Homo sapiens: one gene and its partners. The gene in region 3 interacts genetically with the main gene of each other region. Each region holds a gene or a part of one and is shown on either strand. Other genes may lie near its edges.

The links.
Region 1: changes in ETAA1 (region 3) and MCM10 are lethal when combined (synthetic lethality), as found in Homo sapiens cells (one large-scale study listed by BioGRID).
Region 2: changes in ETAA1 (region 3) and CFAP52 are lethal when combined (synthetic lethality), as found in Homo sapiens cells (one large-scale study listed by BioGRID).
Region 4: changes in ETAA1 (region 3) and LEPR are lethal when combined (synthetic lethality), as found in Homo sapiens cells (one large-scale study listed by BioGRID).
Region 5: changes in ETAA1 (region 3) and VRK1 are lethal when combined (synthetic lethality), as found in Homo sapiens cells (one large-scale study listed by BioGRID).
Region 6: changes in ETAA1 (region 3) and KIF2C are lethal when combined (synthetic lethality), as found in Homo sapiens cells (one large-scale study listed by BioGRID).
Region 7: changes in ETAA1 (region 3) and SLAIN2 are lethal when combined (synthetic lethality), as found in Homo sapiens cells (one large-scale study listed by BioGRID).

Annotation. Positions count from the first base shown.
Region 1 is NC_000010.11:13,192,103-13,196,359, reverse strand, and holds part of MCM10 (protein MCM10 homolog), read right to left. Parts: intron 4,106-4,257; coding exon 3,995-4,105; intron 3,910-3,994; coding exon 3,792-3,909; intron 1,320-3,791; coding exon 1,091-1,319; intron 1-1,090. UniProt on the Homo sapiens protein: Acts as a replication initiation factor that brings together the MCM2-7 helicase and the DNA polymerase alpha/primase complex in order to initiate DNA replication. Additionally, plays a role in preventing DNA damage during replication.
Region 2 is NC_000017.11:9,638,927-9,643,183, reverse strand, and holds part of CFAP52 (cilia- and flagella-associated protein 52), read right to left. Parts: intron 1,461-4,257; coding exon 1,349-1,460; intron 162-1,348; coding exon 1-161. UniProt on the Homo sapiens protein: Microtubule inner protein (MIP) part of the dynein-decorated doublet microtubules (DMTs) in cilia axoneme. Important for proper ciliary and flagellar beating. May act in cooperation with CFAP45 and axonemal dynein subunit DNAH11.
Region 3 is NC_000002.12:67,403,578-67,407,834, forward strand, and holds part of ETAA1 (ewing's tumor-associated antigen 1), read left to right. Parts: coding exon 1-1,758; intron 1,759-4,257. UniProt on the Homo sapiens protein: Replication stress response protein that accumulates at DNA damage sites and promotes replication fork progression and integrity.
Region 4 is NC_000001.11:65,601,792-65,606,048, forward strand, and holds part of LEPR (leptin receptor isoform 1 precursor), read left to right. Parts: intron 1-51; coding exon 52-169; intron 170-3,246; coding exon 3,247-3,446; intron 3,447-4,257. UniProt on the Homo sapiens protein: Receptor for hormone LEP/leptin. On ligand binding, mediates LEP central and peripheral effects through the activation of different signaling pathways such as JAK2/STAT3 and MAPK cascade/FOS.
Region 5 is NC_000014.9:96,848,767-96,853,023, reverse strand, and holds part of VRK1 (serine/threonine-protein kinase VRK1), read right to left. Parts: intron 194-4,257; coding exon 85-193; intron 1-84. UniProt on the Homo sapiens protein: Serine/threonine kinase involved in the regulation of key cellular processes including the cell cycle, nuclear condensation, transcription regulation, and DNA damage response.
Region 6 is NC_000001.11:44,759,910-44,764,166, reverse strand, and holds part of KIF2C (kinesin-like protein KIF2C), read right to left. Parts: intron 3,888-4,257; coding exon 3,683-3,887; intron 3,576-3,682; coding exon 3,465-3,575; intron 2,252-3,464; coding exon 2,184-2,251; intron 2,133-2,183; exon of another isoform or gene 2,060-2,132; intron 1,822-2,059; coding exon 1,716-1,821; intron 1,623-1,715; coding exon 1,509-1,622; intron 1-1,508. UniProt on the Homo sapiens protein: In complex with KIF18B, constitutes the major microtubule plus-end depolymerizing activity in mitotic cells. Regulates the turnover of microtubules at the kinetochore and functions in chromosome segregation during mitosis.
Region 7 is NC_000004.12:48,414,065-48,418,321, reverse strand, and holds part of SLAIN2 (SLAIN motif-containing protein 2), read right to left. Parts: intron 1-4,257.

The DNA of each region.
Region 1 (4,257 bases), on a different chromosome or scaffold from region 3:
TGCTAACTTAAGGGAAGAGAGAGGCTCGATTGGGGCACTCAGGAAGTGGGCAGGTGGGGCTCTGGGTGCCCTACCCCTACTTCAGCCGCAGCAACTCAGCTTTCACCTGTCATGGGACTGGACTTTTGTGTAAGATTTCTTTTAAAGGATTCTTGGTTAGGCACAGTGGCTCATGCCTGTAGTCCCAGCACTTTGGGAGGCTGAGGTGGGACTGCTTGAGTCCAGGAGTGCAAGACCAGCTTGGGCAGCAAAGGGAGGCCCCCATCTCTACAAAAAATACAAAAATTAGCCAAGGCGTGGTGGCATGTGCCTGCAGTCCCAGCTACTACTTGGGAGGCTGAGGCAGGTGGATGAATCGATCCTGGGAGGTTGAGGCTGCAGTGAACCATAATTGCACCACTGCACTCTAGCATGGGTGACAGGGGGATAGTCTGTCTCAACAAATAAAAAATAAAACCGCCAGGCATGGTGGCTCACACCTATAATCCTAGTACTTTGGGAGGCCGAGGTGGACAGATCATTTGAGGTCAGGAGTTCGAGACCAGCCTGGCCAACATGGTGAAACCATGTCTCTACTAAAAATTAGCCGGGCGTGGTGGTAGGCGCCTGTAGTCCCAGGTACTCGGGAGGCTGAAGCAGGACAATCGCTTGAATCTGGGAGGAGGAGGTTGCAGTGAGCCGAGATTGCGCCACTGCACTCCAGTCTGGGTGACAGAGTGAGACTCCTTCTCAAAAAATAAATAAATAAATAAATAAATAAATAAATAAATAAATAAACGTAAAAAAAGGATTCCTTAAACCACCATTTTACAGTCTCACCTCAACAATTCCAAGCATTGTTTTCCTACTGTCAATGCCTCTGGTTATAAAACACTATCTTCCTCTAGGCTACCTCTTGTAGCCTGACAAGAAAAAGTGTTGAGATAACAGATCTAACTTTCTTTTAGTATTATGTTGACACTACCATGTTTTCAAATTACACTGACTCTAATGATCACGATCAATAAAGAGCTATTAGGTGTCTGTCTTTCCTCCAGCTCTGCTCTACAGAATGCAAACTCAAGTGCTAAAGAGAAGAGATGCCAGTTACCTTTTTGGCTTCTGCTAAAGCACTCAGTTTTGGTCTTGGTGGTGGTGACTCATCATAAAAGAGAACATCATCTCCTTCCAAGACACCTCGCCCCAGCTTGGGCGTCATTGTGGCCGGGGCTCCCTCCAGCCTGGGGAACTCGGATCCTGTCCGTGGAGGCTGAGCAGGGGGCTGTCTTGATGAAGATGGCACAGCTGGGCTCTCAACTTCACTTGAGCTCTGCAGAAATCTTTAAAGAACATACAGTCAAAATACGCAAACAGGGTTTACGAAAATAAAAACTCTAGAACTCAAAGTGGACTGGGAGGCGGCAGGCAGGCCACCAGTTGGGAGCTAGTTGTTAGCAAAATAATGTCCCCTTCTAGGCTGGTAATTCAAATTTGCACACGATAAGAACAATACTAGCTTTACTAACTCCTCCTTAATTGAGTTTTCTTTGAATAAGCTGTAATTGTCCTAACACTTTAGAACTGATAACTGTTTTTATCAATTGGCTGTCCAGTGGATGTCATCCACAAGGAACACAGCTGAAGACGCGGTGTGAACTGTATTCCCACCCCTACCGTCAGCTCTAGGGCCTGTAGGAACTCATTGCACCTCCCTGCATCTTTGTTTATGCTACTGGGAAGAGACAATACATGTGAGACATTTGGAAGTCATTAATGAAAAACACTGTAACTTGCAGCGATTATTTTACATCCCCTTTCTTTTTTTTGATTTTTTTGAGACAGAGTCTCGCTGTGTCACCCAGGCTGGAGTGCAGTGGCATGATCTTGGCTCACTGCAACCTCTGCCTCCCAGGTTCAAGTGATTCTCGTGCCTCAGCCTCCCAAGTGTTGGGATTATAGGCGTGAGCTATCATGCCTGGCAAAAAATAGTTTTAAGAGCTATTTTACTTTTGTTTTTGGAGACAGGGTCTTGCTTTGTCACCCAGACTAGAGTGCGTTGGCACGATTGCGGCTCGCTGCCACCTCTGCCTCCCAGGCTCAGGTGATCCTCCCACCTCAGCCTCCCGAGTAGCTGGGTCCACAGTGTGCACCACCATGCCCAGCTAATCTTTGTACTGTTTGTAGAGACAGGATTTCGCCATTTTGCTCAGGTTGGTCTCAAACTCCTGGGCTCAGGCGATCTGCCTGCCTCGGCCTCCCAAAGTGCTAGGATTACAGACATAAGCCACCAAGCCAGCCTCATAAGAGATATTTAAAAACAAATAACAAACCCCAGAAATCATCTAGTCCAAACTTCTCATTTGATCGATGAAGAAACTGAGGCCTAGGATCACATTACTCACAAGGGCCAGACTCAGGATTAGAGCCAGGCCATCCCAGAGCAGTACTCTTCCCAACCGCACAGCCACTCTTGCAAGCTCTAGGCTGTGTTTGCAAACTGCCTATCAAATCCTACGCAAAGATAAGGTTTCCTTGGCCAACAAAATTCTGAAAATTTTCATTACGCAATGCCTTCAAGCTGATGGGCATTCTCTATTTCCCACGAGGCCCCCAACTCCATACATATTTCTGTGTCCACGTATATAATTTATGTCATCTGTAGGCTCAAGATGAATAGCTCTATAGATATCCCACCGGCACTTCAAACTAATCTGCCTGAGACCAAACCCATTCTCTTACTTTCCCAAAGAATTTCCTCTTGTCTTATCATTGACTCCCTTTCATGGATGTGGTTGCCTTTCAGCAGCCCAGATTCGGGATGGCAAAAGGTTCAGCACCAGAGCACAACATGTGTGAGCCCAAAACTCGGCCCCACCATAAACTAGCTCTCTGATCTCCAGGCACACTATTAGTAAAACAAGGCTGAGAAGCCTCCGGAGGCTCAGATACTGTGTTTATGGAGTACGTATGAAGTGCCTGTGAACCGCAGCTCTCATTAGTATTCAGGTGACCTGAGTTCAGGAATCATTCATTTGTCCACCTACCCTATGCATTTCCACTTGATTTTTTTTTTTTTTAATTATTGGCTGAAGCCAAGTAACACATTTCCACTTGCTTTTGCCTCTAAAATGACTCTCCATTTTTAGTGCTTCAGTTTTGTCCTTTATCCAAAGAACTGTATTCTACTCACTGGCTCTGCCTGTCATAAAAAACTGAATTGCGGCAAAACCCAGAAATGGCAGCCAGGCAAATCCAGGCTTGCGTCCAGGAATTTGAGACCAGCTTGGGCAATATGGCAAAACCCAGTCTCTATAAAAAAATACAAAAATTAGCCAAGCATAGTGGCACATGCCTGTAGTCCCAACTACTTGGGAGGCCAAGGCAGGAGGATCATTTGAGCCTGGGACATGGAGGTTGCAGTGAGCCGACACTGCAGCATTGCACTTCAGCTGGGGTGACAGAGTGAAAACCCGTCTCAGAAAAAAAAAAGAGAGAGAGAGAGAAAATGACAGCCAGCATGTGAACCTACGCTCTCCCCCTTCACAAAAACCCTCTTTACATACACTTCACTCCTTTCCCTTTTCCATGGTGATAACGACTCTAACCTGTACCATTTGGTGTTGGGAGTCACCAGTGTAAGAAATAATACAGCCTTAAATGCTATTCAGGTTATGGGAAAACTATTTTAAACTTTCAGAGTTAAAACGCAGCCAACCGAAACCTGAAGTCACATTCTGGAAATCGATGAAGACGTTCTGAGGACGCCTGAGATGGATGACCCAAGCGGGGAATATTAAATCTGCTCCTCTTACCGCTTCTGTATTTCTTCTGATTTCCTTCTCCTCATCTCCAACATCCGCTGCTTCTGTTGCTTCAAGAGTGCTGAGGCCGAGATGGACTTGATGGCTGGTTTTGGGCTCCCCATAATCCCTGAAACAGAAGCCCAGACTGAGGGGGTGCCCTGGGAGGCTGAGGGAACACAGGGACACACGTGTGGCCATGCAGCTGATGGTACCTGAAGCTGTGGCTTTGGCTAAATGTTGTTTTAAGTTCCTGGCTCCACACGTCGGCAGGTCCATCAGTTCCTTGAACTCCTCAGAGCAAGACAGGCTCTTCTGGGGTATTCCTGTGCCAGGTCAACACCAGCTTTAGAGGATTCACATTCAGATGGTTTGAGGTCATATGACATACCACTTTCTAAACTCTGCACTTGTAATTTTAGTCATACGTAAACGAAGAAGACGGAATCCCAAGAGGAAAGAAAAGAATCCTTAACCT
Region 2 (4,257 bases), on a different chromosome or scaffold from region 3:
GTACTTCCATCGCAAAATGGCTCCATCGGCACTTACACTAACAATATATTGATTTCCTGGACTTATGCGGATGCGTGTGATGTTGCCACTGTGTCCCACCCCAACGTGAGTCACTTCACCCTCATTATAATCCCAAACTTTGACCAGATGGTCATTTCCACCTGAAAAAGATAAACACGTATATGGCATTGCTGCAATAGGAGAGAGAGAAACAGCCCTGATTTCAAATAACTGGATCATTTTCAACATGGTCCCCATGTATCTGTCTTTATAATAACACTTTTACTTGATTATAAAAATCTATCTGTTGCAGTAAATTTGAAGAGGAGGGGGAAATACAAAGAGGTAAAATCACATTTCATCCCACTACCCAGAAATAACCACTAGTAATATCTTGGCTTAGTTCCTTCCAGTCTTTTCTCTATAAGTATACTGGTATACATATACATCATATATATGATTGGGATCACACTGTGTCTAGTTTGATACCTGCTTTGTAGTCAATGTACTTGTGAAACTTAATTCATTTCATGCATTTATTTATTTTTTACTTATTTATTTATTGAGACGGACTGTCTGTCACTCAGGCTGGAGTGGAGTGGCATGATCTCAGCTCACTGCAGCCTCCGCCTCCCAGGCTCAAGCAATTCTCCTGTCTCAGCCTCCCAAGTAGCTGGGATTATAGGCGTGCACCACCACGCCCGGCTAATTTTTGTGTTTTTAGTAGACACAGGGTTTCACCATGTTGGCCAGGCTGGTCTCAAACTCCTGACCCCAGGTGATCCACCTGCCTTGGCCTCCCAAAGTGCTAGGATTACAGGCATGAGCCACCACGCCTGGCCGCATTTATTTGTTAATATCCTGATGAATCAAAGAGCTTGGCAGGAAATGATAATGATGTTCCAATCGGCATGTTGTGTGGTAAATGCCCCTTTGAAATATTGGTTAATTCATTTGTTTTGGTGGGAAGGGCATCGCATCATGCAATAATAAAGTGGAATTAAAAGACTGGCTTTTAAGACTTTAGAAGTATGCTGGACAGCCCAGGCCATTTAAAGGCCCCATTTCTATTATCAATGCCCACCAAAAATAGCAAGCCTAGCAATCTAAGTCTTGGCTTTTATTTGTGCTCTTAAGGCTCTTGTGCAAATGTTTCCTCTCATTGAAATGTGACTTCTGGATTTTTCTTTCTCAGCCACATTGGCTGCAGTATTGGTTGGAATCTGATTCTAACCAAGTTGCCTTGAGACCCTTTTGTTGTCTTTTCCAATTGCCTCTAGCCTGGGAGTTCCTTCCATGTCCTCGTCTAAATAAGCCAGGCTTGGCTTTTTCCTATCCCAGGACTAACCTGTGACAAAGTGCACCCCTTCCTGTGTGATATCCATGCCATTTATCGACCCAGACAGGGAACCTTCCAATTCTCTGATTACTGTCCCATCAAATACTTCCCAGTAAGCAATCTGGAATTCAGGAAAGAAGCATTAAGCAGGACTCAGCTCAGGAGAGTCATCCATGCACATGCTAACAAAAGATGGCTCTACTTTATATAGAAGGGAGCAAAAATACACCACGGGATGATACTGGCTGAAATTATAAATAGGCTACAGCAGGGGGTGGCAAAACCATTTTAATATTTTTAGTATTGGTTTTAAATTTGCATTCTATTTAAAGACATGTTGATGTGCTGATAAACCTGGATTAAGACAGAAAGGGCTTTTGATAAGACTAAGAAGATTCAGCCTGAAGCAAGCTGTAAAAGAAAGAACAGCCTCTGCATCCACAGCTAAGCTTCAGGCCTGGAGGGAGGAAAAGCATTTTCTTCCTTCTCACTGGGGGATGAGCACTCCCCACTCCCCAGAGTTCTAGAGACTGGGCTGTACAGGCACCCTCCCACTGGGACTGCGCCCTCCCTCTTCCTCACACCACCCTTATTCCCAACTTTCCCTTCTGCTCCAAAGCACTGAAATATTCCACAGGGTAGAGTTTAAAGAGGAACTGGTAACCTTGGTTCCCTGTTGGGGAGCAGAACTACCTTAGGGATGGAGAGACAGGTGCCTAAAGGAGGGTGATTTTTTTCCTGAATATACTGCCTTTGTACCTTAAACTTTGTGAATGCACAATCTATTCAAGATTTAAATTTCCTTCTTAGGAAAGAATGCTTCTGTTTATGATAGCAAAGACAGGGAATCAACCTAAATGCCCATCAATGATAGACTGCATAAAGAAAATGCGATACGGCCAGCTGGGTGCAGCGGCTCACACCTATAATCCCAGCACTTTGGGAAGCCGAGTTGGGCCCGTTGCTTGAGGTCAGGAATGCGAGACCAGCCTGGGCAATATGGTGAAACCCTGTCTGTACTAAAAATACAAAAATTAGCTGGATGTGGTGGCACACACCTGTAGTGCCAGCTACTTGGGAGGGTGAGGCATGAGAATCACTTGTACCCAGGAGGTGAAAGTTGTAGGAGGTTGCAGTGAGCTGAGATTATGCCACTGCACTCCAGCCTGGGTGACAAAGTGAGACTCTGTCTCCAAAAAAAACAGAATAAACTTAAGAAAATGTGGCAGATATATACCACGGAATACTATGCAGCCATGAAAAGGAACAAGATCATGTCCTTTGCCGGGACATGGATGGAGTTGGGAGCCATTATCCTCAGCAAACTAACGCAGGAACAGAAAACCAAACACCACATGTTCTCACTTACAAGTGGAAGCTGAAGGATGAAAAGAGATGGACACGTGGGGAAACAACACACTCTGGGGCACCTGTCGGGGGGTGGTGGGTGGGGGGAGGAAGAGCATCAGGAAGAATAGCTAATGCATGCAGGGCTTAATACCGAGGTGATGGGATGATCCGTACAGCAAACCACCACGGCACATGTTTACCTATGGAACAAACCTGCACATCCTGCACATGTACCCCTGAACTTAAAGTTGAAAAAAAAAAAAAAAAAAAGAGTGCTTGACCAGGAATCAGGAGTGCAAACCTGCACGTGCATTTCATTTGTTTCTCATTGTTTCATGTCGGAAACGTGCTGTGTTCCAGTCACTCTGCCAGGAGTCTGTATTCCTCTGAATCTAGCTAGACATTATGCATACTATTTCTTGTTAATTTTTTTCTTTTGCTTTGTAATGTCTGTTGATGCTTGATCATGTTAACAAAAAAGTTCTGATTTCATAGTAAACGCCTAAAGAGATAGAAAACCATGCCAGAACCCATGTTTCTCAGGATTCACACCCACAGAAGTAGTTGGAACTTGACTGCCTGCCTTCCCAGCCAAAGAAGCCAAATTGACACTCTCCTGGGCAGCCCCAGTAGGGCTCCATCTTACTGGAGTGTCCTCTGCCAGAGATGCCCTTCCTTGAGGTCTAGGCATTGACTGAGTCCTTCTGTCATTCAGGCCTCACTCAGATGCTGCTCCTTAAGGAGGCCTTCACCCACCACCCCAGCTGAAGGAGCTTTCCCCCGCCCGCCAGTATCATGTCACCAGTTCTATCTCCTTTCTCAGTCCTTTCACCATCTCATCTCTTGTTCACTTGTTATTCATTGTCCATTCATGGATTGGTTCATGTGTGTATTAGCCAATTCCATCCCCTCCTACCCAAAATAAATTAGGGAAGTAAGGTTCATGAGAGCAGGGACCCCTTGCTTGCTCCAAGGGTGAACATTCCCCCAAACAGAAGGATGAACCTTCACCTTCCTCTTTAGCTGGGAAATCTGTACCATATGTAGAATTTTTTTTTTTTTTTAAGAGAGAGTCTTGCTCTGTCACCCAGACTGGAGTGCAGTGGTGCAATCTTGGCTCGCCGCAACCTCCACTTCCCAGGTTCAAGCAATTCTCATGCCTCAGCCTCTTGAGTAGCTGAGATTACAGGCACCCGCTACCACACCCTACTAATTTTTTGTATTTTTTGTAGAGATGGGGTTTCACCATGTTGGCTAGGCTGGTCTCGAACTCCTGACCTCAGGTGATCCACCCGCCTCAGCCTCACAAAGTGCTGGAATTACAGGCATCAGCCACCACGCTTGGCTCCGTGTGTAGATTTTTAATGTATTGATGAAGTACAGTGCTGAGAGATGAGGAGCTCTATTGCCTTTCTGTCTGAATTTAGTCAAAGTGATAACCGGTTTGGGCACAGCAATTCTACTCCAGTCTCAGAAATTCCCTAATAATAAAAACCAATCTATTGAGTACCTACTATGTGCCAGACCCCCTGCTATAAGCACCATGAGCAAGCATGACTTTAATCCTT
Region 3 (4,257 bases):
AAGAACTGCCAGAGGCTTTTTGGAGCACCAGTAATACTACCTTTGTAAAGACAAATGCTTTGAAAGAGGAGAAAATCATTACTAATGAAACTCTGGTCATTGAAAAACTGTCAAATAAAACCCCACGATCACTTTCTTCTCAAGTAGATACACCCATAATGACAAAATCATGTGTGACTTCCTGTACTAAGGAGCCAGAAACTTCTAATAAGTACATTGATGCATTTACTACAAGTGATTTTGAGGATGATTGGGAAAACTTACTAGGTAGTGAACCTTTTGCTATGCAAAATATCGACATGCCTGAACTCTTTCCTTCTAAAACAGCCCATGTTACTGATCAAAAGGAAATTTGTACCTTTAATAGTAAAACTGTTAAAAATACGTCAAGAGCAAATACAAGTCCAGATGCCAGGTTAGGAGATTCAAAAGTATTACAAGATCTTTCTTCAAAGACATATGACAGAGAATTAATAGATGCAGAATATAGATTTTCACCAAATTCAAATAAATCAAACAAATTATCCACTGGAAATAAAATGAAATTTGAGAACTCTTCCAATAAAATTGTTATTCAAGACGAAATTCAAAATTGTATAGTTACATCTAATCTGACAAAAATAAAGGAAGATATTCTTACTAACTCTACTGAAGCTTCTGAAAGGAAGTCAGCTTTGAACACAAGGTATTCTAATGAACAGAAAAATAAGTGCATTTTAAATCAGTCTATTAAAGCCCCTGTTAATACTGATCTTTTTGGCTCTGCAAATCTAGGCAGTAAAACCAGTGTTAGTAACCCAAATCAGACTAGTGCATCAAAAGTAGGTTCTTTCTTTGATGATTGGAATGATCCCTCATTTGCCAATGAAATTATTAAAGCATGTCATCAATTAGATAATACCTGGGAAGCAGATGATGTAGATGATGATTTGTTGTACCAAGCATGTGATGATATTGAAAGACTAACTCAGCAACAAGACATTAGAAAGGACAGTAAGACATCAGAAAGTATATGTGAGATCAATAATAATTCCGAACATGGAGCCAAACTAACTCAGCAACAAGACATTAGAAAGGACAGTAAGACATCAGAAAGTATATGTGAGATCAATAATAATTCCGAACATGGAGCCAAAAACATGTTTGCTATATCTAAACAAGGAAGTAATTTGGTACAATCAAAGCATTTGAATCCAGGCAGCATTTCAGTGCAGACATCTTTGACAAATAGCTCACAAATAGATAAGCCAATGAAGATGGAGAAAGGGGAAATGTATGGAAATTCTCCAAGATTTTTAGGTGCCACAAATTTGACTATGTATTCTAAGATCTCAAACTGTCAGATAAATAATCTGCATGTGTCTTATACTAACACTGATGTTCCAATACAAGTGAATAGTTCCAAATTGGTTCTTCCAGGAAGTTCAAGTTTGAATGTAACTTCAGATCATATGAATACAGAAATTACTACTTATAAGAAGAAATTGAGTACTAATCAGCCATGCCATAAGACTGTAACAGATGAAGCTCAGAGCAACCTTAACACAACAGTTGGATTTTCAAAGTTTACATTTACAAGGATGAAAAATTCTCAGATTCTTTCTCAGTTTAATCAAAATTGTATAACTGGAAGTATGTCTGATACCAAAATTACACAGGGTGTGGAGAAAAAGAAAGGTGTCAACCCATTACTGGAGGAAGCTGTTGGACAGCAATCTTTGGTGAAACTTTCTGAATCTTTGAAACAATCTTCAAAAGGTATGTATGAAATATGAAATAGTTTTCTTTGAAAAGCATCTTAAAAAGTAGTAAAATAATTATTTGTTGTTTTTGAGTGTGAGTAATGTATAAGGTAAAACTATTCTATGACTAGTTAATTTTAAGAATTAACTAGAATTCTTAAAATGATACTTGGAAATAATTATACGGCATTATACAGAGTAGTTGGTTTATTTTTCAAAATATTACATTGAATTCTTTCCCAGCACTTAATACAATGACTGGCATATAGTAGGTACTCAGTAAATATTTTTTGAATAACTTATTCTTTCTTGGAAAATCATACCTTTAGATATATGTATTATAGTGTTCATTAAGATTGTATTTACTAAATTGTTTTAAAACTTGAGTAATCTGGGAAGCAGATGATGAAGCAGTGAGGTAAATAATATTTAGAAATTTAGAGCATTCTAATTAAACGTCTTTACTAGTGTGATATTTGATATAAACGTGCTAGCGGTGATGGTTAAAATTATGATTTACTTATTTGATAACAGCTATCATTTCTGATTCTTCCAATTTCTCTTTTCCCCAAGTCTCCATTCTATCAATAAGTTTCATTCTTTCAAAAACCGTATCCCCAGACTCCATTTTTCTTTCTACAACAAGTTAACATTTCTTGATGAGACTACTGCAGTTCTTTTATCTATCTCCTTTCAATTCTTATCTCCAAACAGTGGAATAGCCTTTTAAAATTGGATGGGCAAAAATGGCGTTTCTATGCTTAAAACAACCTTCAATGGCTGCCCGTCATATTTCAAATAAAATCCAAACTGTATACTGTGACCAACAAAGCTGTGGATTATCTCTCTTTAACCTGCGTCTCCTCTTTTTTCCTTACCTACTAAGCTTCAGCTATACCAGCTATCTTTTAGTTTTTCAAACAGTGTATGTTTTTCTTCCTTGTCCAGGAACTTAGACCGTGCTCTTCCCTTTGACTAAAACTACTTCTTTTCAACATGTGACCCCTTCCCCACTCTTTTGTTGGTGCTTTCTTACATCTCAGTATAAGTACTACTTTCTCACAGAGGCCTTCCTTGAAGAGTCTATAAATAGATCTCCTTGTTTATTTTTTATTTCCTAATTGCTTTCATCACAAGTTGAAATTAAATATTTAGTGACTCTTCTCTGTCTTGTTGGCATTACTGTTCCAACTTTCCTATCTAAGTGACTTTTTTTAAAAATTTACAATAGTAATATGCTAGTTATTTAAAAAGAAAAGTAAAACAGTATAGAATAATTTAAAGGAAAAAGTTAAGTCTTCTGTTTCTCCTTTCTGATAACCATCCCTTACGGAAAACCACTATTAATAGTTGGTATGATGTAGCATTTTCTATGAATATAAAAAGATATGTGTGTGTGTATGTACGTATATATGTGTATGCATATATATATACCTATAGATCTATTTAAATATTAATAAATCTGTATACCCACTATTTGGCAACTTGCTTTTGCCTTAATATATTATAGCTGTCTTTTCCTATTAGTACATATAAATTTATTTTAGTCCTGTTAATGACTATGTGATATATATGGTGGATGTATCATAATTTAACTGTTTCTCTGTGATGGAAGTTTGGGTTGGTTGCAGTCTTTTGCAATTACAAACAATACTCCAGTAAATATCCTTCTGCATAAATTTCCGCATGCTTGTATAATTGTATCTGTTAATTCCTAAAAAATTGCTACAAGAGGAAGTTTTAAAATTTGATGGATACCACCAAATTTCTATCCGAAGCAGTTATACCAATTTATCTTATCAAAACTTACAGTAAATAATTCTCTACACCCAAGGGTGTCCAATCTTTTGGCTTCCCTGGGCCACATTGGAAGAATTATCTTGGATCACACATAAGATACACTGACACTAACAACAGCTGATGAACTAAAAAAAAAAAAAAAAAAAATCACAAAAGAATCTCATAATGTTGTAAAAAAGTTTATGAATTTGTGTTGGGCTGCATTCAAAGCCATCCTGGGCTGCGGGTAGCTTGCGGGCTGCGGGTTGGACAAGCTTGCTTTACATGATAGCCCAAACTAGATATTTTGAAATATTAAAAATTGTTCTCAATCTATAATAATTTTAAGTATTTAAATTTGTATTAAAGTGAGCATATTGTAACTAAATCAAGCATGTTCCTAGCATGACTTTATTTACAGATAGAGTTGACCCTTGAACAGTGTGGGGGTTAGAGGCGCTGATCTGATTTGCAGTCGAAAGTCTGTGTATAACTTTTGATCCCCTAAAAACTTAACTGCTAATAGCCTGCTGTTGACCAGAAACCTTTCCGATAACATAATTAATTAATACATATTTTGTATGCTCTTATATGTATTATATACTGTATTCTTACAATAAGCTGGAAAAGTGTTATTAAGAAAATAAGGAAGAGAAAATAATATTTACTATTCATTAAGTGAAAGTGGATCATCATAAAGGTCTTCATCCTCATGATCTTCATGTCTAGTAGGCCG
Region 4 (4,257 bases), on a different chromosome or scaffold from region 3:
AATTTTTTGGAGTTTTTGCTTTATATTAATATTTTAATATGTTTCAAATAGATGTCAATATCAATATCTCATGTGAAACTGATGGGTACTTAACTAAAATGACTTGCAGATGGTCAACCAGTACAATCCAGTCACTTGCGGAAAGCACTTTGCAATTGAGGTATCATAGGTACGTATTATTTTTGCTGTTTTGTTTTTCTGTGGGCACAGTGAGATAAAAATTTTCTTTAGAAATATTACAACAGTAGTCTTACAGATTATTTGCTTCCTGAAAGAGGAAAGTATAATATAATGAATCAGGAAATTTTTGAGGGATTATATAAATTGGTGATTCTTGAAAAATATTCACACCTGAGATTAAAAAATTGTAATTTGTTTTTACTTCAAATTATCTTTTCTGAAAATCAATCAATTCTGAAAAATTTGTATTTTAACTCTTGAATGAAATGCAAGAAAATGTAGTTTATATATATTTTAATTTGACTTAGTTGACTAGAGGAGAATGTGAAAGATTATAAAAGTTTCGTATCATTTGGCTAAAGATTAATGTTTTGGAAAAAAGAGGTAAAAACAGATTATAAGAGATAATATGAATGGTTTTTAGAACTGAGTGAGATTACTTAGGAAATAAATACTTATGGTTAATAAAGGGTAATGTGTTCTAATGAGAAGTAATTTGTGCTTGTTTATTTTTACTCTTCTATGTTTTAAAAAGAATTCAAGGCATCGTCTTATAGTGGTCCCTTTCTTTCTAAAATCATTTTATCTAAAATGATACAACCCTTGATTATATAATAGATTTTTATTTTTAAAAATATCCCATAGTAGTAGTCAAGTAAATATATACTGCTGTTAAACACTGTGTCCCAATTTATATTTTTATTTGTAGTGGAGACTTTCAATTTGTATAACATGCTCATTTATTCTTAAAATATAAATTTTCAACTAGAAAAATAAATCCCTTCTCTCAAATACTGTGATCTGAAGTCTATTCCTAATGCTGCCAGTCTCTTCTTATGTAGCGTTAGGAAAAAAATGTGGCAATTCGTACATTTCTCAAATAGCTGCCTTCATCCTACCTAATATGAGTATTTTAAAATCAGTAGAATTGTTCATGATATGAAATTTTACTTTTATAATCTGTCTTTACATTCTTTTCATGGCATTTTCACATTAGAAAAGGTGTTTATGGAAAACTATTATGTTAAGCCCCATGCCTTGTTTCTCTTATTAACATTTACAGAATAACTATGAAACTACATTTACTTGGGTGAGTTTCTTAACTTCCCTAAGCCTCAATTTCCTTGTCTGTAAAACAGAGAGAATAATAGGACTTACAGTGTTTCTGCGAGAGTTAATGACATATTTCATCTAATTATAATCACATGGTATAATTTCTCCTTGTAAATATTCAATATATGGTTTTTGCTGTCATGATAATGATGCCAACTTTTCGATTTCAAGTGTACTAGTACTGTGCTTCTACTTTGTTCTTATTTTCTACCCCCAGATGACCCCTCACTCCTCATTTTCATTTTTGCCCACGCACCACCATTTATTCACACACACACACACACACACATTCATGATTGTAATTTTGAGAAGACAAGAAAAAGAAGTGGTATAGAAAATAGAAAATGACAGAAGAATATAGATTTTTTAGCTTCTTCTAACTTCCTCACTCCCATCTCTTTGGAAAGAGTAATTGCTACTTCAGCTATTTAAATATAGTATTCAGAGCAAACATTGGCCCAAGAGGTTATTTCAAAGAAGAGGAAAAAGACTTTATGTCAAGTTTGTCCAACCCATGGCCTGGGGCCCCCATGTGGACTAGGATAGCTTTGAATGCAGCCCAACACAAATTTATAAACTGTCTGAAAACATTAGGAGATTTTTTTTGCAACTGGTTTTTTTTTTTTTTTTTGATTCATCAGCTATCGTTAGTATATTTTATGTGTGGCCCAAGACAGTTCTTCTTCCAGTGTGGCCTAGGGAAGCCAAAAGATTGGACACCCCTGCTTTATGGGTTCTGAGGTGGAGTGTTGGCTAGGACTCACTTATAAAATTTTTTTTAAATTTTCTTTTCTGAGAAAATGAGGAATATACATGGTTATATAATTCACATACATATCTGAAATTGGTATTATATTAACTTATATTAATTTGAACTAGAAAATTATATTCACCACTCATTTGTGGTGAAATTTAATTCTTTCTTCAAAGTGTGAGGAATTTGCCTTCCTTGCCATCTCAGGAATGCTCCATGACTACTTTCATCTATATTTTAAATATTCTATCACTAATACATAATGTTTGTTTAATTTTCAAATTATTGTAGGTTCTGTCTCTAACTGGATCATTTTCTTCTTTTTAGAGTATTTATTTCATTTGCATCCCTGCTTAGTGTCTAATGAAATATTTAATAAGAGTTACTGTCAGTTTCTGTGGAAAGATATAGAATTGGGAAAAATTAAAAAATGCCTTTCTAATAAGAATGTCTTTTTTTAGATGGAGTGAAATTGTCTGTATTTTATTTATTTTAATTTAATTTAATTTAATTTTATTTTGTTTTTGAGACAGTCTCCCTCTGTCGCCCAGGCTGCAGTGCAGTGGTACCATCTCCGTTCACTGCAACCTCCGCCTCCCCAGTTCAAGCGATTCTCCTGCCTCAGCCTCCCTAGTAGCCAGGACTACAGATGTGCATTTGTAGAGACAGGGTTTCCCCATGTTGCCCAGGCTGGTCTGGAACTCCTGGGCTCAAGTGATCAGCCCGCCTCAGCCTCCCAAAGTGCTGGGATTACAGGCATGAGCCACCGCACCGGGCCTTCTGCCTGTCTTTTAAACTTGGGGTCCCCAGTCCCTGGGCCACGGACCGGTACCTGTCTGTGGCCTCTTAGGAACCCGGCCACAAAGCGGGAGGTGAGAGAGCAGCATTACCACCTGCGCTCCACCTCCTGTCAGATCAGCGCAGCATTAGATTCTTAGAGGAGCAGAACCCTATTGTGAACTGGGCATGCGCTCCTCATGAGAATCTAATGCCTGGTGATCTGAAGTGGAACAGTTTCATCCCGAAATCCTGAACCATCTCCCATCCCCCATTAGTGGAAAAATTGTCTTCCATGAAACCGGTCCCTGGTGCCAAAAAGGTTGGGGACTGCTGTTTTAAACAACAAATCAGAATTCTCAGATATCTTCTTGTTGCTTTTATTAATGTATACTAATTGACTATTTTTGTATCTTTTAAAGGAGCAGCCTTTACTGTTCTGATATTCCATCTATTCATCCCATATCTGAGCCCAAAGATTGCTATTTGCAGAGTGATGGTTTTTATGAATGCATTTTCCAGCCAATCTTCCTATTATCTGGCTACACAATGTGGATTAGGATCAATCACTCTCTAGGTTCACTTGACTCTCCACCAACATGTGTCCTTCCTGATTCTGTGGGTATGTCAAGCTGCGTTGTGTCTTCATTTGTGTTAGCAGATTTGTATGCAGATTGATGCAGATTTAATGTTATATTTTGCCATTTTCTGATCACATTAGATTTTGAAAAAAAAATTGTTCCTGTTTACAGTGGTATTGAGAAAATCAGCCTTAGGAAGTTTTACAGTTTTGAATTCATTTCAAATTATTTATAGCAGACTTTTTTTAGCAATAGGAATATTTTCTGCACACTATTAGATGAAATACATGGGTCATTATGAATGAATTTTAGTAGTGTTTTTCTAAATAAGGCATTATTTTATGTTTTTGTTCCAATGTAGTTATGAAAACATGTAATATTTGTAATCCAAACGTTTAATTTGAATATTCTGAGGTTCTCAATAATCTGAGTACTCATAACTCAAGCCTTTAATTTGTGAGGCTATGTAGGGCACAGAAGCATTTAAAATAGCTAAATTGAAGTGGAGGAAATAGACAACAATGACATACATTATATTTTAAACATTCTTTTCAAAAAACTTTTGATTTCAAAGATATTAAGAGAGCCCTTGGAAAATGTGATATATTCTTTCCGGTTCATTGTGAAATCTCTGAGAAATGATTGTGCAACAGGAATGCAAAAATATCTTTTGGTGCTGTTACATATGTATAACTAAGGAAGCTTTTGTAGATCTTTTCTAAATGTTTGTTTTCAAGATAAGATGTCTAAAAACAAAACAAAAATGGGATTTTCAGTGAATTTTCCCCTCAAATAAAATATTCCTCAGTAGGAAACATGTTAGAATAATGTTCCATAAAAATATTAATATAT
Region 5 (4,257 bases), on a different chromosome or scaffold from region 3:
GCAGAGGACCAAGCTTCAACATAAACTAGCCTTTACTGTACTCAAAACAATTTTTTAAAAACAAGAAGAACATAGCTCACATACAATTCTTAAGCTTAGCTGCAAGACAGTTTTCCGAGAAAACCTTTTGGCATTTGCTTCATATATTTTCTGAAGGTCACTCCCAAAGCGATCCATTATCATAAACCTGTAACTGAAGACAAATATGAAAAGCCAATGAACAAAATACAATGCAAGAAAACCAACTTTGTAATGAGTACTCTCAAAGTAATTTTTTCAAGACAATGTTTAGTAAAGAAGTATTCTTTAAAAAAGAAATACAAACATTTGAAACAATTTCTCCCAACTAGAAATCTCAAAGAGTTCAGAGTGCTTTCAGGTCCTGCTTTTTACCTGGAGGGCCTCTTCCTGGTCGCAGCTAGTTTCAAGAGACTATTCAATTTAAGATAATGCTCACAGAGAGAACCCAACAAGTTTATTCACGGTAAAAATAAAACAAGCTGAATAAAAATGACAGCATTGATTTTTCTCATAGTTAAAATTAATTCATGTTTCTGGATATCAGCTTCCTTCCTGTGACTGTTTCTCCTTATTTTTAAGGTATATTTCAGCAGTAACAACATTCTGCTAAAATCAAGATTCTCGTGAGATGCTTTAACAAAAGCCAGATTCAATACCATTGTTTAAATGGCGTAAAAGGATTGTACATTAAACACTCAATGGCCAAGATTTGGGGAAAAACAAATATCCTGAAAAAACATGAAGATAACTGGCTTTGCATAAAGCAGCTATGTCACCTTGGCTGAGTCACATTACTTCCTGGGCCTCAATTTCCACAGAAGTAAAATGAGAGAGCAGGGACTCACCCTTTCTAAGGTCACTTTCAACACCCAAAACTCAGATTCAATAATCACGTTATATTTCAGTATGTACAGAAAAGCATCACCTATTTGCAATAACACTGCTTAGCTTCTGCTCTGAGGACCACTTTTATCTTCAATAGTTTTCCAGATTCTAACTTGTCTGGTGAAATCATTCAGTAAATCAATAAAAATCAAAACCACACTCAGAATGTATCAGGACATCTCCAATGAGGAAGATTATGAATCATCAACACCATAACATCTAGCATTTACTGAACACCTGGTATGCACACAGCACTACTGTAAGTACTTAAAACGTTATTAATGCATTTAAACCTCACATCACTCTATAAAGTAGGTAACTCCTATCATACCCATTTTACAGCAGAAGAAAACTGATAATTTGTCCTCTAGTATGTGGCAAAATCATGCTTTTAACCCCTGTACTACATATTAACTGAAATAAATGTCAGTAGGATACAAAAATCCCATTTATATGTTATAGGCTTCTATGATAACAATATGACAAGTTCAATAGGGAAGGAAGAGTTGACTAACATTAAAAGACAAGATGTTGAACAAGTAACTCAGAATTCTATTCATTTTTGAACTGGAAGAAAATTAGAAAATCATCTTGTCTAAACATCTTTTAATAAATAAAATAACTAAGGTCTTTGGAGGTAAAGTGATTTGTCCAAGGTTATAAAATTAGTCAGTGGTGGCCGGGCCTGGTAGTTCACGCCAGTAATCTCAGCACTTTGGGAGGCCAAGGCTGGTGGATCACCTGAGGTCAGCAGTTCGAGACCAGCCTGGCCAACATGGTGAAACCCCGTCTCTACTAAAAACACAAAAATTAGCCGGGCACGGTGGCAGGAACCTGTAATTCCAGCAACTCGGGAGGCTAAGGCAGGAGAATTGCTTGAACCTGGGAGGCGGAGATTGCAGTGAGCCAAGATTGAGCCACTGCACTCCAGCTGCACGACAAGAGCAAACTCCACCTCAATTAAAAAAAAAAAAAAATTTGTGACAAAATATATTCATTCATGTAAGATTTCCTAGCACCTTGGCTTGTAAGATAATAAAGTGAAAATGGTAACTTTGACTTCCTGGTTTCCTTTGTGTAACAGATTTTGCAAGGTTGAGAGATGAGACCAGGGCACATATACATGTTGGCTTTTACTAAATAGGTGATGTGTGTAATGATTATAACATAGGATGAGCATCTCAAATCTGAAAATCTGAAATCAGAAGTGCTCCAAAATTAGAAAGTGTTTTTAGTGCCAACAAGATGTTCAAAGGAAATGCTCACTGGAGCATTTTGGATTTCCCATTTTCAGATTTGGGATGCTCAACCAGTAGGTATTAACGCAAATATTCCAAAATCCTTAAGAAATCCCAAATCTAAAATACTTCTGGTGCCAACATTTCAGATAAGGCATACTTAACCTGTAATACACAGGTAACAAAAATACAACCTCTGTAACAGCCTGAAAGGTGGCTAAAACACAACTGCTTAATTCAACATGGGGTCTATTAATAAATTCTGTTACATAGGTCTTTGTTTTTATTCACAAATCACCCTACCACTACTCTTAATAAGACCTTAATCTTGTCACCATACCTAAATCATAAACATCAACTGAAACATGATTCCACAAATTTCACAGAAACCATTACCACATTCTTCTGGAAAGACGGCTCTACCATTGAGTAGTAAAATGAAAGCTATTTCTAAGTAACTCCTCTAAAGTAAAACCTTTGATGTATACTTTTCTGGAGACTTGGATAAAATGTGCAAGTAAAAGAAAAATATAAATCAGTGTAAAATAATTTAATAATGGTAGCAGCTAACATTGCTCTAAGCCCTACATACATATTAATTCAAATGAGTTACAAGGAAAACTAAGCATGTCTGGCATGGAAGGGGGCTGGAAGAATAATCTACTTTCTATTTCTTTACTTTCTAAGACCTATAATGATTCTTTTTAAGAGCTTCAACCTAAAAAGTAAATCAATGCCTGATATATGACTAATGCCATCTTTTTAAAGGAGACATTTCTAGCAACCTCATTTTATAGAAGAAATGGGCTGGGAGGTAAAGTCATCACTAGTAAGTGGTGAGTTAAGACTTAGACTGTGTTCTCATTTGTCACCACACTCTAAGGCACTTCTGATCCACACCAGGGAAGTTCTTTCCAGCAGTGCCCAAGTCAGTCAGCTTACAGAGTCAACCTTGGACCCACTTAGTCCCTGGTCACCTCACAGGAGTCACACAAACAAAAGCCCTGTTTAACTGGTTCTGAACTTTATCATAAAATGGGTGATAAGAATGTATATGGTAAAATGTGATATGACAGTGTGGGCTACTTTTAAAAAGACCATCATTCTCAAGCAACATACCACCACTGACAAACAAAAATCATAGACAAACAAATGAAACCAATTATGATAATCACAGTGATGATGACTGCAAGAAACATTTCCTCAGCACTTACTCTGTGCCCCTTACAATTTACATGTTTTCAATTCATCTTCACAGTAATTCATAAAGTAAGCACTATTATCCTCATCTCACACATAGGGAAACAAGAGAGACAGAAAGTTAACTAGCCCATGACCACACCTGATGGAGTCAAGTACAATCAATCTAGTGCTAGATTTGTTTGGTGTTTAGGTTTTGCTGCAATATACCGTGCTTGGTTTTTTTTTTTTAAGACGTTTATACTCAAATTATGGAAAGAGGAAAAGGCTGTTATTCCAAGTCTAAAAATGCTCTAGCCCCAGGTACACTTTTCTTCCAATCATCTCTATGAAATGTGGTTTTCATAATGTACTGTTCCTTAGGAATATAACTATTGTATACTGGAGCACACAGTCAAACAGATTTGCTTCCTAGCAAGTCATCACTAAGGGTTTTTCTTGTCTTACTCCCCTTTAGACAGTCTTTAATTCACCATGTAAGCCATTTCCCAAATGCCACTTTCACCACCATGTCACCTCATCCCTTGCTCAAGAGCAAGTGATAGCTTCTGACTACCTACTATACATGGGTTCCAAACTGTTCTTTCCTCTATGGGTCTTCATTATCTGCCACCGACTCCTTCTCCAAGTTTATTTCCTTCTCTCTTACACACATGCCCTCTTCCTCTGCTACAGGAAGACGGCCATTGGGTCATACAGTAGAATAAAAGTCTATCCTGCCTGTGCTCACGTTCATCTCCCACTTAAGATGCTGTTCTGCCTCTTCAATGATTTTCTAAACCAGTAGGTTTTAACATTTAAGCGATTAAAGACCCCTTTGAGAGCAAAAGCTAACATCTATGTTTTACATATACTCTTGTAGCTTTATACTAAAACATCATTAAGTGGGTAGCTGTTACTCCATTTCACAGAT
Region 6 (4,257 bases), on a different chromosome or scaffold from region 3:
CATATTTTGGGGGGTACCTTGTAAGATTTTCATGCTTGTATATCTAAATGGTTCATGAATCTCATGTCCTCATTCCAATCCCATGAACACGGACACAGTTTGGTCTAGGCACTAGTTTCTCTTTTTTTTTTTCTGAGATGGAGTCTTGCTCTGTCACCCAGGCTAGAGTGCAGTGGCACGATCTTGACTCACTACAACCTTTGCCTCCCTGGTTCAAGTAATTCTCCTGCCTCAGCCTCCCAAGTAGCTGAGATTACAGGCGCCCGCCACCATACTCGGCTAATTTTTTGTATTTAGTAGACATGGGGTTTCGCCACGTTGGCCAGGCTGGTCTCGAACTCCTGACCTCATGATCCACCCGCCTCGGCCTCCCAACGTGTTGGGATTACAGGCATGAGCCACCGCGCCTGGCTGGCAATAGTTTTTCTTGAACCCTTTCCAACAATCTCCTAACTGCCTCTACCTTTGCTTTTCTCAAGCCCCCAAACCAGGCTCCACATGGTGGCCATATGATATATCTAAAGCTCTGACATGCCCATGTCACCACTCTGCTTAACACCCTCCAAAGGCTTCCTCATGATGCAGTCCAGGCCTGTGAGATGAACCATCTAGAAGACTCTAGCATCAGATCCCTGTTGACCTGTCCACAGCCTTAACTACCCTCCATCACCTGTTCACTCCTTTTGCTCTGACCACGGTGAGCCTCTCATTCATCCTGAAAGTGCCATGTGCTTACAAAACTCTGTACCCCTGAGCACTCCAGGAAGGGGAGGAGAGGCCTGAGCACTTACCCTTCACAGTCCCTCCTCAGTTACACCTGCCCCAAGTTCTTCCTTCCTGCTCTGCAATCCTCTGAGCGCCCCACCATTGGGACGTAAATTCCTGCCTCCCAGTCACTTGCTCTTCCACAGTAGGGATTACAGTAGCAGGGGCACCTACCAGTTACTGAACCCTGACCACACACTGGGTACTGTGCTGACACTTTATAAGCATATTACTGAACGCTCAAATACAACCATCCTACCTTGACCATTTCAGAGATGCAAAAACTGAGGCCCAGTGAGGCTAAATGAATTTCACAAGGAAATCAGTTTGTGAATGGAAGAGACAGGATTGATCTCAAGTCATACCCTTAGGGCCTATTACCTATACTTCATGTTTTTTGGCCCTTGGATTCAGCACAAGAGTTGCAACATTCACCAAAACACAAGACAAGATCCCTGCATATGGATCACCCTTCAAATCCTCTATCAGGAGCGTGGAGGAGAGACTAGCTCTGGCTAGTGTGATGTCAGAAAGCCTATGTGTGCCAACCTGCAGAAGGGGTTGTGATAATTAGAAGAACAGCTGGGTTAACAGGCAAAGAATTAAAGAGTGCTGGTGTAGAGGGCTGCTTCTTGCTATGTGAATACCTGTGGGAACAAGGCCCAGGTCATGTTCTGGGAATGGTGTGGAGCATACTGAGGGCCGTGCTGCATCCAGCTCCCTGTCCAGGGCCAGCTGCCTACCTGTATGATCTCCTTGAGCTCTTCCATAGCCTTCTCCTCCAGCTCCCTGATCTGAGTCATGGCTTCGTTAAAGCTGGACATCTGGGAAGACAGTTCCTCCTCTTCCTTGGATAACTGAGAGGGCCAAAAAGAAAGACAATTATGTGACCCAGGTGCCGCCTCAGCAGGCCACACTTCTGTCTTGCTTGGCCGCATCCTGGTCCTTACATTGCCTGGAATCAGCGCCCCGTTAGAGCAGGCTTCCATCTCTTCTGTTTCCATTTGAATCAACTGCTCTCCACTGGGCCCACTGTGGGGGCTCAGCTCCTTGACCCTGAGGAAACAAGGAGGTCTCAGATCCCACAGCACCCCCTTGGTACTCACCAGAGGAATGTGGCACCGCCCAGGCTTCGAGGCTTGAGGCTCCAAGGGGATGGAATGGCAACCTTGCCTTCAGCCAAGGAGAGAGAAAACTAAAGCTGGACTGGAAAAGCCCCTCACCCAGCTGACTCTCCAGCAGGGCCCGGAGAGGATTGGGACAGACCTAGCATCACGGCGGAACTCCCAAGCCTCAGGTTCAGAGTCACAGAGGAGTATACAGTAGGCCCTGAGGCCCCAGAGCCTCCTCCCCTCTCATCACTGCCCTTCCCTTGCCCAGTCCTGTTCCGCATCCCACCTAGCTGTAGGTACTAGTACCTGTCTGCATATCTCAGGGTGTTTAAAGTATATTCACAGGAGCTTATGCCTGGTGAGATCGTGGCAATCTGCAAAAGAGGGGTGGGTGATTAAAGGCTGAGAGGCACGGTGAGGATGCTATATAGCCTGTCCCTGAGGGGCCTCCAGTCAGGGTGTTTCTTCAAGCTTTGGAGACCCACATGGTATTGGTGGGAGGAGTCATTTAGCACCGCGCTGTGCTAGGCCACTTGCCCCATGGGCACTGCAAATTAAGGTGCCTCAGACATTGGTTTCCTGCTTTCAAAGACACATCTAATTATCTTTTGCTTCATTATTCCTTCACTGAGACAGTCTTGCTACCAAGGTCCTATCTTTTTCTTTTTTCTTTTTTTTTTTTGAGACGGAGTCTCACTCTGTCGCCCAGACCAGAGTGCAGTGGTGCGATCTCAGCTCACTGCAAGCTCTGCCTCCCAGGTTCACGCCATTCTCCTGCCTTAGCCTCCCGAGTAGCTGGGACTACAGGCACCTGCCACCACACCTGGCTAATTTTTTTTATTTTTTAATAGAGATGGGGTTTCACCATGTTAGCCAGGATGGTCTCTATCTCCTGACCTTGTGATCCACCTGCCTCTCGGCCTCCCAAAGTGCTGGGATTACAGGCGTGAGCCACCGCGCCCAGCCCAAGGTCCTATCTTAAAGCTCTGTGGCTTCTGCTGGAAACTTCAGTTCCCTTAGGCCAAAGGATAATGCCTTAGGTAGAGCTTAGTCAGAAAATCCCACCTTCCTCATGAAAGGACTCCTACCCAAAGGGTAGGGGAGAATATTCTCTTGAGGGGAAGGATGGCAGATCTCACATACAGGGGCTTGGGGATAAAACAGGAAAGAGGACGTCATTCAAGGACACAGCCTTATGATCCAGGCTATTTCTATTTTCTAGGCTGGGAGCCAGTGAACCTGAGGGAGGCCATGGAAAAGACAAGGACTTCCCTCTCCTGCTGACCCAAAGGCCCATCTTCCGAATTCTGGAACCCCCTTTTCATCAGGTAATGCAGGAATGACCTCTCCCAAACCAAGAGCTGCACCTACACATCTTAAAGGGAATAGATCCTTTCCTCCACGCTTGGTTAGGCCACAAGGAGTCTCGTGCATTAAAGCAGGGTCTGGAAGCCCAGTCACGGTACAGCCTGGAAACCCAGGCAGCCAGCAGTGCTGAGCTTCCAGCCCAGGGACAGGACTAAGTGTCTCTGTGGAAAGCAACTCTGTCTCCTCCTGTACCATCACCTTCAAAGTGACCCTACTCACCATGCAAGTCCTAGAGTTCTCCCCAATGAAGGAGTCCCTCAGCACCTGTGTCAGCTTGCTCTCACGGAACGGGGTGTGAGCCTTGTTCTGTCCCAGGGCCCTGATGCACTCCTGTGGGGGCAGCAGGAACAACTGAGGTCCCTTCTTTCCTTGCACTGATCCCTCCCCATCCCTTCCCAGTAGCTCTCCCGGCCAACCAGCTCTAGCTGCCCCACTACCTTCAGGGCTAAGAGACTCTTGTTGATTTCTGCGCCCTCCATGCGGGTCTGCCGGTCAGCACTGGAAGTGTCCGCGCCTCGCTCATTCCCTGCCAGATCTACCAAAGAGAACTTGCCATGCATTCTCCCTTTAGCTCGAAGAATAATTTGGAAGCACGCGTGGGAGCGGGAGGAATTGGAGTTGGCAAATGTCTGCCCAGAGGTTCTGTGGTAAAGAAAGGTTATGAGATTCTGTGGTCACCAGCCCCCATGGCACCCAAGTCCACAGAAGTTCTCTAGGAAGGGAGGGACACAGGTTAGGAGGCGAAAAAGTCCTGTTTTCCTGTCCCAGGCTTCCATCTTGCCCTCCCTGGGTAGCAATTCTCCCTCCAGCTCTGGACCTAATACATTTTCCTGGCAGCCAAATTAGTACTGGATTCTGGACTAGGGCCTTTGTCAGACCTGGAGCCCTAGAAGGACACGGGGAAGGATAAATTCCCTCTGCTAAAGGGCCCAAAGGGAAGGGGGAAGCTGTCATGAACCACCTGCCAGAACTTGAGGACCCTGTAGAGGGCAGCCCCCTCCCTGGGCCTCTA
Region 7 (4,257 bases), on a different chromosome or scaffold from region 3:
AACCTCATAAAGAACATCTACAAAAACCCTACAGTTAACATTATACTTAATGAAGAAAGATTGAATGCATCTCCCCTAAGACCAGGAACAAGACAAGAACATACGCTCTTACCACTAATTCTAGCCAGTGCAATAAACAAGAAAAAAAAAAAAGAAGAAGAGGGAGAAGGAAGGAGAAAGAAGGAGGAAGGAGAAAGAAGGAGGAAGGAGGGAGGAAGAGGAGGAAGAGGAAGAAGAAGAAGAAGAAATAATAATAAAAGGCACAGAGGTTAGAAACTGTCCCCATGGTTGTCTACACAGAAAATCCCAATGAATCTACACACACACACACTTCTAGAAATAATAAGTGAATTCAGTAAGGTCACAGAACTGGATAAAAATACAAACACTGACTATGTTTCTATATGCCAGCAACGAACATTAGAAATCAAGATTAAAAATACCACACCATAGATAGCTCTTATTATTTTGAAATACATCCCATCAATACCTAATTTATTGAGAGTTTTTAGCATGAAGGGTTGTTGAATTTTGTCAAAGGCTTTTTCTGCATCTATTGAGATAATCATGTGGTTTTTGTCTTTGGCTCTGTTTATATGCTGGATTACATTTATTGATTTGCGTATATTGAACCAGCCTTGCATCCCAGGGATGAAGCCCACTTGATCATGGTGGGTAAGCTTTTTGATGTGCTGCTGGATTCGGTTTGCCAGTATTTTATTGAGGATTTTTGCATCAATGTTCATCAAGGATATTGGTCTAAAATTCTCTTTTTTGGTTGTGTCTCTGCCCGGCTTTGGTATCAGAATGATGCTGGCCTCATAAAATCAGTTAGGGAGGATTCCCTCTTTTTCTATTGATTGGAATAGTTTCAGAAGGAATGGTACCAGTTCCTCCTTGTACCTCTGGTAGAATTCGGCTGTGAATCCATCTGGTCCTGGACTCTTTTTGGTTGGTAAACTATTGATTATTGCCACAATTTCAGAGCCTGTTATTGGTCTATTCAGAGATTCAACTTCTTCCTGGTTTAGTCTTGGGAGAGTGTATGTGTCGAGGAATTTATCCATTTCTTCTAGATTTTCTAGTTTATTTGCGTAGAGGTGTTTGTAGTATTCTCTGATGGTAGTTTGTATTTCTGTGGGATCGGTGGTGATATCCCCTTTATCATTTTTTATTGTGTCTATTTGATTCTTCTCTCTTTTTTTATTAGTCTTGCTAGCGGTCTATCAATTTTGTTGATCCTTTCAAAAAACCAGCTCCTGGATTCATTGATTTTTTGAAGGGTTTTTTGTGTCTCTATTTCCTTCAGTTCTGCTCTGATTTTAGTTATTTCTTGCCTTCTGCTAGCTTTTGAATGTGTTTGCTCTTGCTTTTCTAGTTCTTTTAATTGTGATGTTAGGGTGTCAATTTTGGATCTTTCCTGCTTTCTCTTGTAGGCATTTAGTGCTATAAATTTCCCTCTACACACTGCTTTGAATGCGTCCCAGAGATTCTGGTATGTGGTGTCTTTGTTCTCGTTGGTTTCAAAGAACATCTTTATTTCTGCCTTCATTTCGTTATGTACCCAGTAGTCATTCAGGAGCAGGTTGTTCAGTTTCCATGTAGTTGAGCGGCTTTGAGTGAGATTTTTAATCCTGAGTTCTAGTTTGATTGCACTGTGGTCTGAGAGATAGTTTGAAAACTGGCACAAGACAGGGATGCCCTCTCTCACCGCTCCTATTCAACATAGTGTTGGAAGTTCTGGCCAGGGCAATCAGGCAGGAGAAGGAAATAAAGGGTATTCAATTAGGAAAAGAGGAAGTCAAATTGTCCCTGTTTGCAGACGACATGATTGTTTATCTAGAAAACCCCATCGTCTCAGCCCAAAATCTCCTTAAGCTGATAAGCAACTTCAGCAAAGTCTCAGGATACAAAATCAATGTACAAAAATCACAAGCATTCTTATACACCAACAACAGACAAACAGAGAGCCAAATCATGGGTGAACTCCCATTCACAATTGCTTCAAAGAGAATAAAATACCTAGGAATCCAACTTACAAGGGATGTGAAGGACCTCTTCAAGGAGAACTACAAACCACTGCTCAAGGAAATAAAAGAGGACACAAACAAATGGAAGAACATTCCATGCTCATGGGTAGGAAGAATCAATATCGTGAAAATGGCCATACTGCCCAAGGTAATTTACAGATTCAATGCCATCCCCATCAAGCTACCAATGACTTTCTTCACAGAATTGGAAAAAACTACCTTAAAGTTCATATGGAACCAAAAAAGAGCCCGCATCGCCAAGTCAATCCTAAGCCAAAAGAACAAAGCTGGAGGCATCACACTACCTGACTTCAAACTATACTACAAGGCTACAGTAACCAAAACAGCATGCTACTGGTACCAAAACAGAGATATAGATCAATGGAACAGAACAGAGCCCTCAGAAATAATGCCGCATATCTACAACTATCTGATCTTTGACAAACCTGAGAAAAACAAGCAATGGGGAAAGGATTCCCTATTTAATAAATGGTGCTGGGAAAACTGGCTAGCCATATGTAGAAAGCTGAAACTGGATCCCTTCCTTACACCTTATACAAAAATCAATTCAAGATGGATTAAAGATTTAAACGTTAGACCTAAAACCATAAAAACCCTAGAAGAAAACCTAGGCATTACCATTCAGGACACAGGCGTGGGCAAGGACTTCATGTCCAAAACACCAAAAGCAATGGCAACAAAAGCCAAAATTGACAAATGGGATCTAATGAAACTAAAGAGCTTCTGCACAGCAAAAGAAACTACCATCAGAGTGAACAGGCAACCTACAACATGGGAGAAAATTTTCGCAACCTACTCATCTGACAAAGGGCTAATATCCAGAATCTACAATGAACTCAAACAAATTTACAAGAAAAAAACAAACAACCCCATCAAAAAGTGGGTGAAGGATATGAACAGACACTTCTCAAAAGAAGACATTTATGCAGCCAAAAAACACATGAAGAAATGCTCATCATCACTGGCCATCAGAGAAATGCAAATCAAAACCACTATGAGATATCATCTCACACCAGTTAGAATGGCTATCATTAAAAAGTCAGGAAACAACAGGTGCTGGAGAGGATGTGGAGAAATAGGAACACTTTTACACTGTTGGTGGGACTGTAAACTAGTTCAACCATTGTGGAAGTCAGTGTGGCGATTCCTCAGGGATCTAGAACTAGAAATACCATTTGACCCAGCCATCCCATTACTGGGTATATACCCAAAGGACTATAAATCATGCTGCTATAAAGACACATGCACACGTATGTTTATTGCGGCACTATTCACAATAGCAAAGACTTGGAACCAACCCAAATGTCCAACAATGATAGACTGGATTAAGAAAATGTGGCACATATACACCATGGAATACTATGCAGCCATAAAAAATGATGAGTTCATATCCTTTGTAGGGACATGGATGAAATTGGAAACCATCATTCTCAGTAAACTATCGCAAGAACAAAAAACCAAACACCGCATATTCTCACTCATAGGTGGGAATTGAACAATGAGATCACATGGACACAGGAAGGGGAATATCACACTCTGGGGACTGTGGTGGGGTCGGGGGAGGGGGGAGGGATAGCATTGGGAGATATACCTAATGCTAGATGACACATTAGTGGGTGCAGCGCACCAGCATGGCACATGTATACATATGTAACTAACCTGCACAATGTGCACATGTACCCTAAAACTTAGAGTATAATAAAAAAAAAAAAAAAAAAAATACCACACCAATTGCATTGCTTGAAAAGAAAACCACTTACATATAAATCTAATAAATCTGAGCCAATATAAGTTTGCTGTGAAGAGCAAACGAGTAATAAATGTGTAAATTGTTAGTAAAATGTAAAATATTAAACAAATTGTAAGGCATTCTTATCTGTGGCTTTCTTATCTAAAGAACAGGCCTCCTTTAGTCTGCTACACATGAATTTCCTAGATGGATATTCAACAATGCCACTCAGAACAGTCTCCTAGGCTTTCCCTATAAATTAACTCAAATGTAAATATTAAGTTATTACCCAAAATGTATTACCCAAATTGATATTGACAAGTTATAATTTCTCTTTACTCTTTTTGAATACCAAGAATTACACTCGAGTCAGGCATAATGTGAAGGAGATCTATCTGCTCTGAGCAAAAATTAGAACTCTATTTATAAAAATGACATGACTAAGAATCCTAACCTTGGTGTCTAAGTTATCTCCAA